Homo sapiens: one gene and its partner. The protein of the gene in region 2 purifies or fractionates together with the protein of the main gene of each other region. This does not show direct contact. Each region holds a gene or a part of one and is shown on either strand. Other genes may lie near its edges. The genes, in order: ST13 and SMO.

The links.
Region 1: the proteins of SMO (region 2) and ST13 fractionate together in Homo sapiens (co-fractionation; one large-scale study listed by BioGRID). This does not show direct contact.

The regions. Positions count from the first base shown.
Region 1 is NC_000022.11:40,842,971-40,846,791, forward strand, and holds part of ST13 (hsc70-interacting protein), read right to left. Parts: intron 1,940-3,821; coding exon 1,869-1,939; intron 1-1,868. UniProt on the Homo sapiens protein: One HIP oligomer binds the ATPase domains of at least two HSC70 molecules dependent on activation of the HSC70 ATPase by HSP40. Stabilizes the ADP state of HSC70 that has a high affinity for substrate protein.
Region 2 is NC_000007.14:129,201,891-129,205,711, reverse strand, and holds part of SMO (protein smoothened precursor), read right to left. Parts: intron 3,090-3,821; exon of another isoform or gene 2,976-3,089; intron 2,329-2,975; coding exon 2,123-2,328; intron 510-2,122; coding exon 300-509; intron 103-299; coding exon 1-102. UniProt on the Homo sapiens protein: G protein-coupled receptor which associates with the patched protein (PTCH) to transduce hedgehog protein signaling. Binding of sonic hedgehog (SHH) to its receptor patched prevents inhibition of smoothened (SMO) by patched.

The DNA of each region.
Region 1 (3,821 bases), on a different chromosome or scaffold from region 2:
CTAGCTGGACATGGTGGTGCATGACTATAGTCCCAGCTGGTCAGGAGGCTGAGGTGGGAGGATCACTTGAGCCCAGGGCGTCAAGGGCGCAGTGAGCTATGATTGTACCACTACACTCCAGCCTGGATGGAAGAGTGAGACACTGTCTCAAAAAAACAAAGCACAAGACTTATGGGGAACACGTTAGTAAGTTATTAAAATATTTTAAAAACACCTAAAAATTGGGCAGATAACATTATTTATGGATAGTTTATCTCAATGGTGAGGAGATATATCTTTTCCCGAACTTGATTTAGATTTAACACAATTCTAACAAAGGGGAAAAAAACCAATGGAAGCGGGGAGACTTGATCAACCTATTTCTAAAATTTACTTGGAAAAACAAAAAGCCAAGAACAGCCAAAAGACTAAAAAGTTTTGGGGGTCCTTGTTCTACAAAATAACAAGACTTAGTATCAGACGATGTGGCATTAGTGAACAGAAAAAAAATAGACAAGCAGAACAATAAACTCCTGAAACAGACCCACAATATTCAGAAACAGTGTATTTTAGTTTTGGTGGGACCGGTAGATTAAAGGTGAAAGGTGAGTGTATAAAATGTTCAGAAGAGAAAAAGCAATGCACTACAGCAATTATAACCTCAAAGTAATAAAGCAGAAAATATCTGCATTAAAAGATACTATTTTTGAAACAACATGAAGAAAGATGAGTGAAGATGAGTCACAAACTAGCAGAAAATATATGCAGCACTAGCAACAAATTATTAGCATCCAGAATATTGAAATGAAATACAAAGCAGTAAGAAAAAGATCCAGCAAAAAGTGGAAAAAGTTTAAACAGGAGTTCGCAAATGCCAGTGAACAGCCAATAAACATTTAAATATGCTCAGCCTCATTAGGAATCAGGAAAATGCATTTTTTTTTTTTTTTTTAAATAGAGTTTTGCTCTGTCGCTCAGGCTGGAGTGCAGGGGTGCGATCTCACCTCACTGCAACCTCTGCCTCCTGGGTTCAAGTGATTCTCCTGCCTCAGCCTCCCAAGTAGCTGGGATTACAGGCGTGCACCATCATGCCTGGCTTATTTTTGTATTATTAGTAGAGACGGGGTTTCACCATGTTGGCCAGGCTGGTCTCAAACTCCTGACCTTAGATGATCCACCCACCTCGGCCTCCCAAAGTGCTGGGATTACAGGCGTGAGCCACCCTGTCTGGCCAGGAAAATGCAAATTAAAAGCCACAAAAAGATACCATTTCCCACAATACTTGGCAAAGATGAAATCTGATAATATCAAGTTTTGAGGATAAAAACCAATCTTTTAAAACTGCTATTACTATATTAGAGTGTTTCTCAAATTTTTATCAGACACTAAGGAGCCTTTTTAGACATCTTTTCCTCATTTCCATATCCCCAATTTTAATACCACAGATACACTACATATTAATATTCTATGAGTCTTTGGAGGACCACTAACCATTGTAATATATAGAATTTTTTTTAAGCCCTCCTCCCAAGAACCAATTTTCACTCCCTTGAGGGCCTGTTATGACAAACCATTCTGTAATACAATTTGGCATTAGATATTCCATCAAGAGCAACTCCACTAATAGGTATGTATTTTAAGTGAATTCTGCGTTACAGTGCAAGCAGTCACACCAGATGCAAACTTAAAAAACAGATAAAACAGAAAGTAACAGTATTTATTTTCATTAGTATTTTAAGTAGTAAAATACAATGCTTGCCTAAAACGCCTGAAGTCAGAGAAAGATTTACTATGCGCTTTTCCTGGAAGAATCGTGTCATAAAATCATTGCAACAGCAGGACCTTTCACATTTCTTAGAACAAGCAGGAAATCAAGTCACCGAACTTACCTCCGCATTTTCATCTCCCATTTCTTGAGGAGCATCAGTGTCTGGTTCAATCACACCTTCTTTATCAATTTCTGCCAAAGTCGAGAAAATGACAATAAGACCTGCACCGTACAATATAGTAGCCACTCCCAAGATTATTAAAAACTGACATACTATGACTACTACAATTAATTATTTTAAGTATTGATGCATTTTAAAATATGTTCCCATTAAACATTTCGTTACTTTGGTAAGACTACACTTTACGTTAACTGTCACATCATGTAAGATATTTATTATCAGGTTGTAGTGGGGTTGTTGACATGTGCAGTTTCTAGTATTACACATAAATACACCACTGATTTAGTCATTGTATATAAATACACCATTGTCAACAAACTGATTTAGTTCAAATAATTTTTTTCTACACACTGATGTACTATGTTTTTCAAAAATATGCAGGTAAGCTACAGTGATACTTCAACGTAAATCAAAATATTTTAATATAATTACATTCATTACTTTCCTTTTTTAAAATTAAAATAATTTTGGGGGGGGCACAGGATCTTACTATGTTGTCCAAGAAATCCTCCCACCTCGGCCTCCCAAAGCACTAGGATTCCAAGCATGAGCCACTGCACCTGGTCCCTAATTATTTTCATTTTTAAAAGTAGCATGGACAAGTTTTAATTTTAAAATAAAGGCTTACTACTGATGCAGAATCAAGTACCAAGGCTAGATTTAAAAATAAATTTAGTTTCCATATGTACAGTAGTGACCAAAGCTAGTACTTACAACCAAAACAGTAAAGAATGAAAAGCAGTATCTTGCTTTTCAAATTGTCATTTAACAGTTGTCAGTTAAATGACAACTGTAATTTGTTGCAAGTGGAAAACGAGTTTTATATATATATACACACACACACGCACGTATCATTTAAAAAGAACACATTTGCAAATAGTTAATTTGATAAGAAGTTTCCTTAGTCAAAAAAAAAAAATTTAAAATCACCCACCTAAAATCAGAATTACTGTCCAGCAACAACAAAACTTGACGCATGACTGACAAACTATATATATACATATATGTATATGGTGTACAATGCGATGTTTTAACATACAGGCATATCGTTTTTTGAGACGGAGTTTCGCTTTTGTTGCCGAGGTTGGAGTGCAGTGGCGCAATCTTGGCTCACCGTAACCTCTGCCTCCCAGGTTCAAGCAATTGTCCTGCGTCAGTCTCCCAGGTAGCTGGGATTACAGGCATGTGTCACCACACCTGGCTAATTTTGTATTTTTAGTAGAGATGGGGTTTCTCCATGTTAGTCAGGCTGGTCTCCAACTCCCGACCTCAGGTGGTCCACCCGCCTCAGCCTCCCAAAGTGCTGGGATTAAAGGTGTGAGTCACCGTGCCTGACCTCAGGCATACCTCATTTTATTGTGTTTCACTTTACTGCACCTCACATAATGAAATGATTCTCACCCATCATATTAATAACTATCCATCTCACATATTTATTTGTTTTTGGTGAGAACACTGAAGATCCAGTCTCTTAACAAATTTCAAGTATACAGTATTATAGTCATGCTGTATACTGGATCTCTGGAATTTATTCAGATTATAGCTCAAAGTTTATGCCCTTTAACACGGTAAAAAAATTTTAATCCATTTTTTAACAGCAACTAAGCTTGTCTATCAAAGTTTGATTTGTATACAAAAAAGAAAACACTTTTAGGTGGAGAGTTGGTTAAAAAATTTATTGTAGTTTTAGAAACTGGTAGAAAGTAAGACTAAAGAGGCATTTTATAAAAAGTAAAAGATCTTCAATTTAGCACTCAAACAACTGCCAGTAGAATGTAAGACCTCTAATGATATCAAAGATAATTTGATTCAGGCCAGGCGTGGTGGCTCACACCTGTAATCCCAGAACTCTGGGAGGCCAAGACGGGCAGATCACCCGAGGTCAGGAGTTTG
Region 2 (3,821 bases):
GGCCAGCCAGCCAATGCTGCCCACAAAGAAGCACGCATTGACGTAGAAGAGAATAACAGCAGGGTAGCGATTCGAGTTCCGCCAGTCAGCCACGAATGTGGCCTAGAAGAGAGAAGTGGGCCATTCTGTGAGGTTAGGGTTATTCTGCTGACACAGACACCCTTAACTGAGCCCCAGACCCTTCTGATCATGACCCTTCCCTGGGGACCCCCACCAAGACCTCTTTGCCCCCCTTCCCTCTGGCTCTCTTCCCACGTTCCAGGCTGAGGGCCCCCCGGGCCTGCCCTCCCGCGGCTGACCAGGGTGAAGAGCGTGCAGAGGCCCGTGACGGCCCCGAAGGCCGCGATGTAGCTGTGCATGTCCTGGTGCTCAGCCTCTGTGAAGAGCGGGTTCTGGCACTGGATGCCGCAGCCCTCCACGTCCTCGTACCAGCTCTTGGGGTTGTCTGTCCGAACCAAGGGCACTTCGCACTGGCCTGAACTGTTGAACTTGATGTTCTGCACCTCATTCTGGCACCAGGGATGGGAAAAGACGGTGTCAAGGCAGCTCAGGGACGAGCCTCTTGTTTAGGGAAAGGTATCTAGGTAGCATGGCAGGGTGGCTGGAGATACACTTCCAGGACCTGAATCCCAGGGCTGGCTTGGCAAATTATTTGGCCTCTCTGTACCTCAGTTTCCCCACTTCTTTCTTTCTTTTTTTCTTTCTTTTTTTAGACAGTCTCGCTCTGTCGCCCAGGCTGGAGTGCAGTGGCGTGATCTCAGCTCACTGCAACCTCTGCCTCCCGGGCAATTCTCCTGCCTCAGACTCCCGAGTAGCTGGGACTACAGGCGCCCACCACCACACCCGGCTAAATTTTGTATTTTAGACGGGGTTTCACCAGGTTGGCCAGGCTGGTCTTGAACTCCTGACCTCATGATCCACCCACCTCGGCCTCCCAAAGTGCTGGGATTACAGGCGTGAGCCACTGCGCCCGGCCAGTTTCCCCATTTCTAAGATGGTAGTACTTACCTTATGGTATGGTTTAAGGGTTAAATGAATAAACATATATTATATATATAGAAAGAGAGAGACAGAGTCTGGCTCTGTCGCCCAGGCTGCAGTGCAATGGCACAATCTTGGCTCACTGCAACCTCCACCTCCCGGGTTCAAGCGATTCTACTGCCTCAGCCTCCCAAGTAGCTGAGAATACAGGTGCCCACCACCATGTCTGGCTAATTTTTTGTATTTTTAGTAGAGACGGAGTTTCACCATGTTGGTCAGGCTGGTCTTGAACTTCTGACCTCATCAAGTGATCCACCCGCCTCAGCCTTCCAAAGTGGTGGGGATAACAGGCATGAGCCACTGTGTCTGGCCAGCCTATTTATTTATTTATTTATTTTGAGACAGAGTCTCACTCTGTAGCCCAGGCTGGAGTTCAGTGGCACGATCTCAGCTCACTGCAACTTCCACCTCCCGGGTTCAAGCGATTCTCGTGTCTCAGCCTCCCGAGTAGCTGGGACTACAGGCGCACACCATGACATCAGGCTTATGTTTGTATTTTTAGTAGAGACAGGGTTTTGCCACGTTGGCCAGGCTGGTCTGGAACTCCTGACTTCAGGTGATCTGCCCACCTCGACCTCCCAAAGTGCTGGGATTACAGGCATGAGCTTATTATAATGGCATTTGGCATATAGTAAACAGGACTAATTAGTATTATTACCATCATTATTACTGTTATTATTTTCATTGAAGACCTCTCCTGCACCACCCAGAACTAGCTCACGTCCCCTGTCTTGGTGGCTCTAGCTGTTTCACACGCTCGCGCCTTAACTCCCAACATACATGAGAAACTTCCTGATAGGCTCCTGTCATCCGTGATGCCCGTAACACCACAACACCCAACAGCCAGTGCTCAAAACATTTTGCTGAACATGTGATCATTGATAAATAAATAGAGAATCCCTAATAGACGGATCCAGCCAGTGAGCTGCAGTTTGAGTTTGTGTCCTGTTGACCCCATGGCTGTAGGCTCAGGGTCTCCAGGAGACAAAGCTCTGGGCTCCCCTGCTCCCCACTGGACCCTGCCCTATACCCGGTCCTGCCCAACCCAGAGAGCCTGGACCTTGTCTCACAGAGCACTCACCGTGCAGCCTTCAGGGAAGCGGTCAGGAGTGCAGCGCAGGAAGTCAGGCCAGCCCCGCTCCCTCTCCACGATGGCACAGGGGCCTCGGGTGGCCTGGCAGAGGGTACGGCTGGGCAGCTCCACCCGGTCATTCTCACACTTGGGCATGTATACGGCACACAGCAGGGGCTGGATCACTGCCCAGCAGCGGGGGGCATTCCGGAGGCCTGGGGGTGGCAACAGCATTGCAGTGAAGGCCCCTCCTCACTCTGACCCACAGACGCAGCTTCACCCCTGTCCTCCAGGCCTTTGCCACACTGCAGCCCATCACTGGTCAGACCTGGCAGGTACAGTGTTTCTCAACAGTGCATCTGGGCAGGACAGTTCTTTATACCATAGGACTGTCCCATGCATTGCAGACACTAGACTCTGCCAACTCAATGCCAGTAGAACCCAGAAGTGATTGTGACAAACAAAAATGCCCCAGCCCTCTACTCTAGGGACGGTGACTAGAAGGGAGCCTGGAGAGGAACCTCTGGGCTGCTGGGAATGTTTTACTTCTTGATCTGGTACTGGTTACATGGGATGTTGGGAATATTCTATCTCCTGATCTGATACTGGTTACATGAGTGTATTCACCTTGTGGAAACCAAGCTCATGATCTGTGCGCTATTCTGTATGCTTACTATCATTTAAGTTTTAAGAAAATAACTGCCACTTCCAGATGCCCTGCTAGGGAGTGGTAATGCCTCTGGTAGAGCTCCCCGGGGTGGATTTACCTTTTCAGGGGTGCACCCAACTCTCACGGGGCCCATTTGCTAGAGCCAGGAGATGTTTCCCTTTGCCCAGACCCCAGAACCCTTGTTCCTCTTACCAAGCGGAGTGAGAGAGAAGAGATGGGGGCTTAAGAAGAGGTAGTCAGAGGAGCCAGGCACTCCAAAGCCAGAGGAGGAAGCAGGAAGTCAGATGGAGAGGAACAGAAGAGGCTCTGTCCAGTGCGGAGAGGGGAAAAATGTTGTCAGCAAGACAGAAACAGGCGGCAATCTCCCAGCACCCGTCCCCAGCCTAGTCCTCCGCCCTGCCCATCACAGAAGCCCTTCCTGAATCAACCCTGCTTCAGCAATATCTATTTCCCAAGCAAGAAGTTGCATTAGGAGAGAATATGAGGATGTGAGAGCCAACATGGGTGCCGGTCACATTTCCAGGCTGGGGGTGGTAGAGACAGGTAACCACTCTTTTCGGGGGAAGGCAACATAGTAGAGAGGTAAGGGGCATGTGCATGGCAACTGCCCAGCCTGGGTCCAAATCTTGGCTCCACTCTTTCCTGGCTGTATGATCTTGGGCAAAGTACTTTATCTTTAGCCTCAGTTGCCTCATCTGTAAAATGGGGATGATAGATTTACCTCATGGAACTGCTGTGAAAAGTGATATAATGCTTTAAATGCCCTTGGCACAGTACCTGTCATGTAGTAAGCGCTCAGGAAATGTTAACTCTTATGATTATTTGTCTGAGGCCTCTGACTGCTCCCAGCCTTCAGAGTATATTCCAGGGTGCAGAGCAAGTTCCTGCCAGTTAAGAAGCAATGTCCTCAGGCAACAGTTCCCACTTGACTCAATTCAGTCACCAGTTGGCCAGGCGCAGTGGCTCACACCTGTAATCCCAGCACTTTGGGAGGCAAAGGCGGGCAGATCACCTGAGGCTAGGAGTTCAAGACCAGCC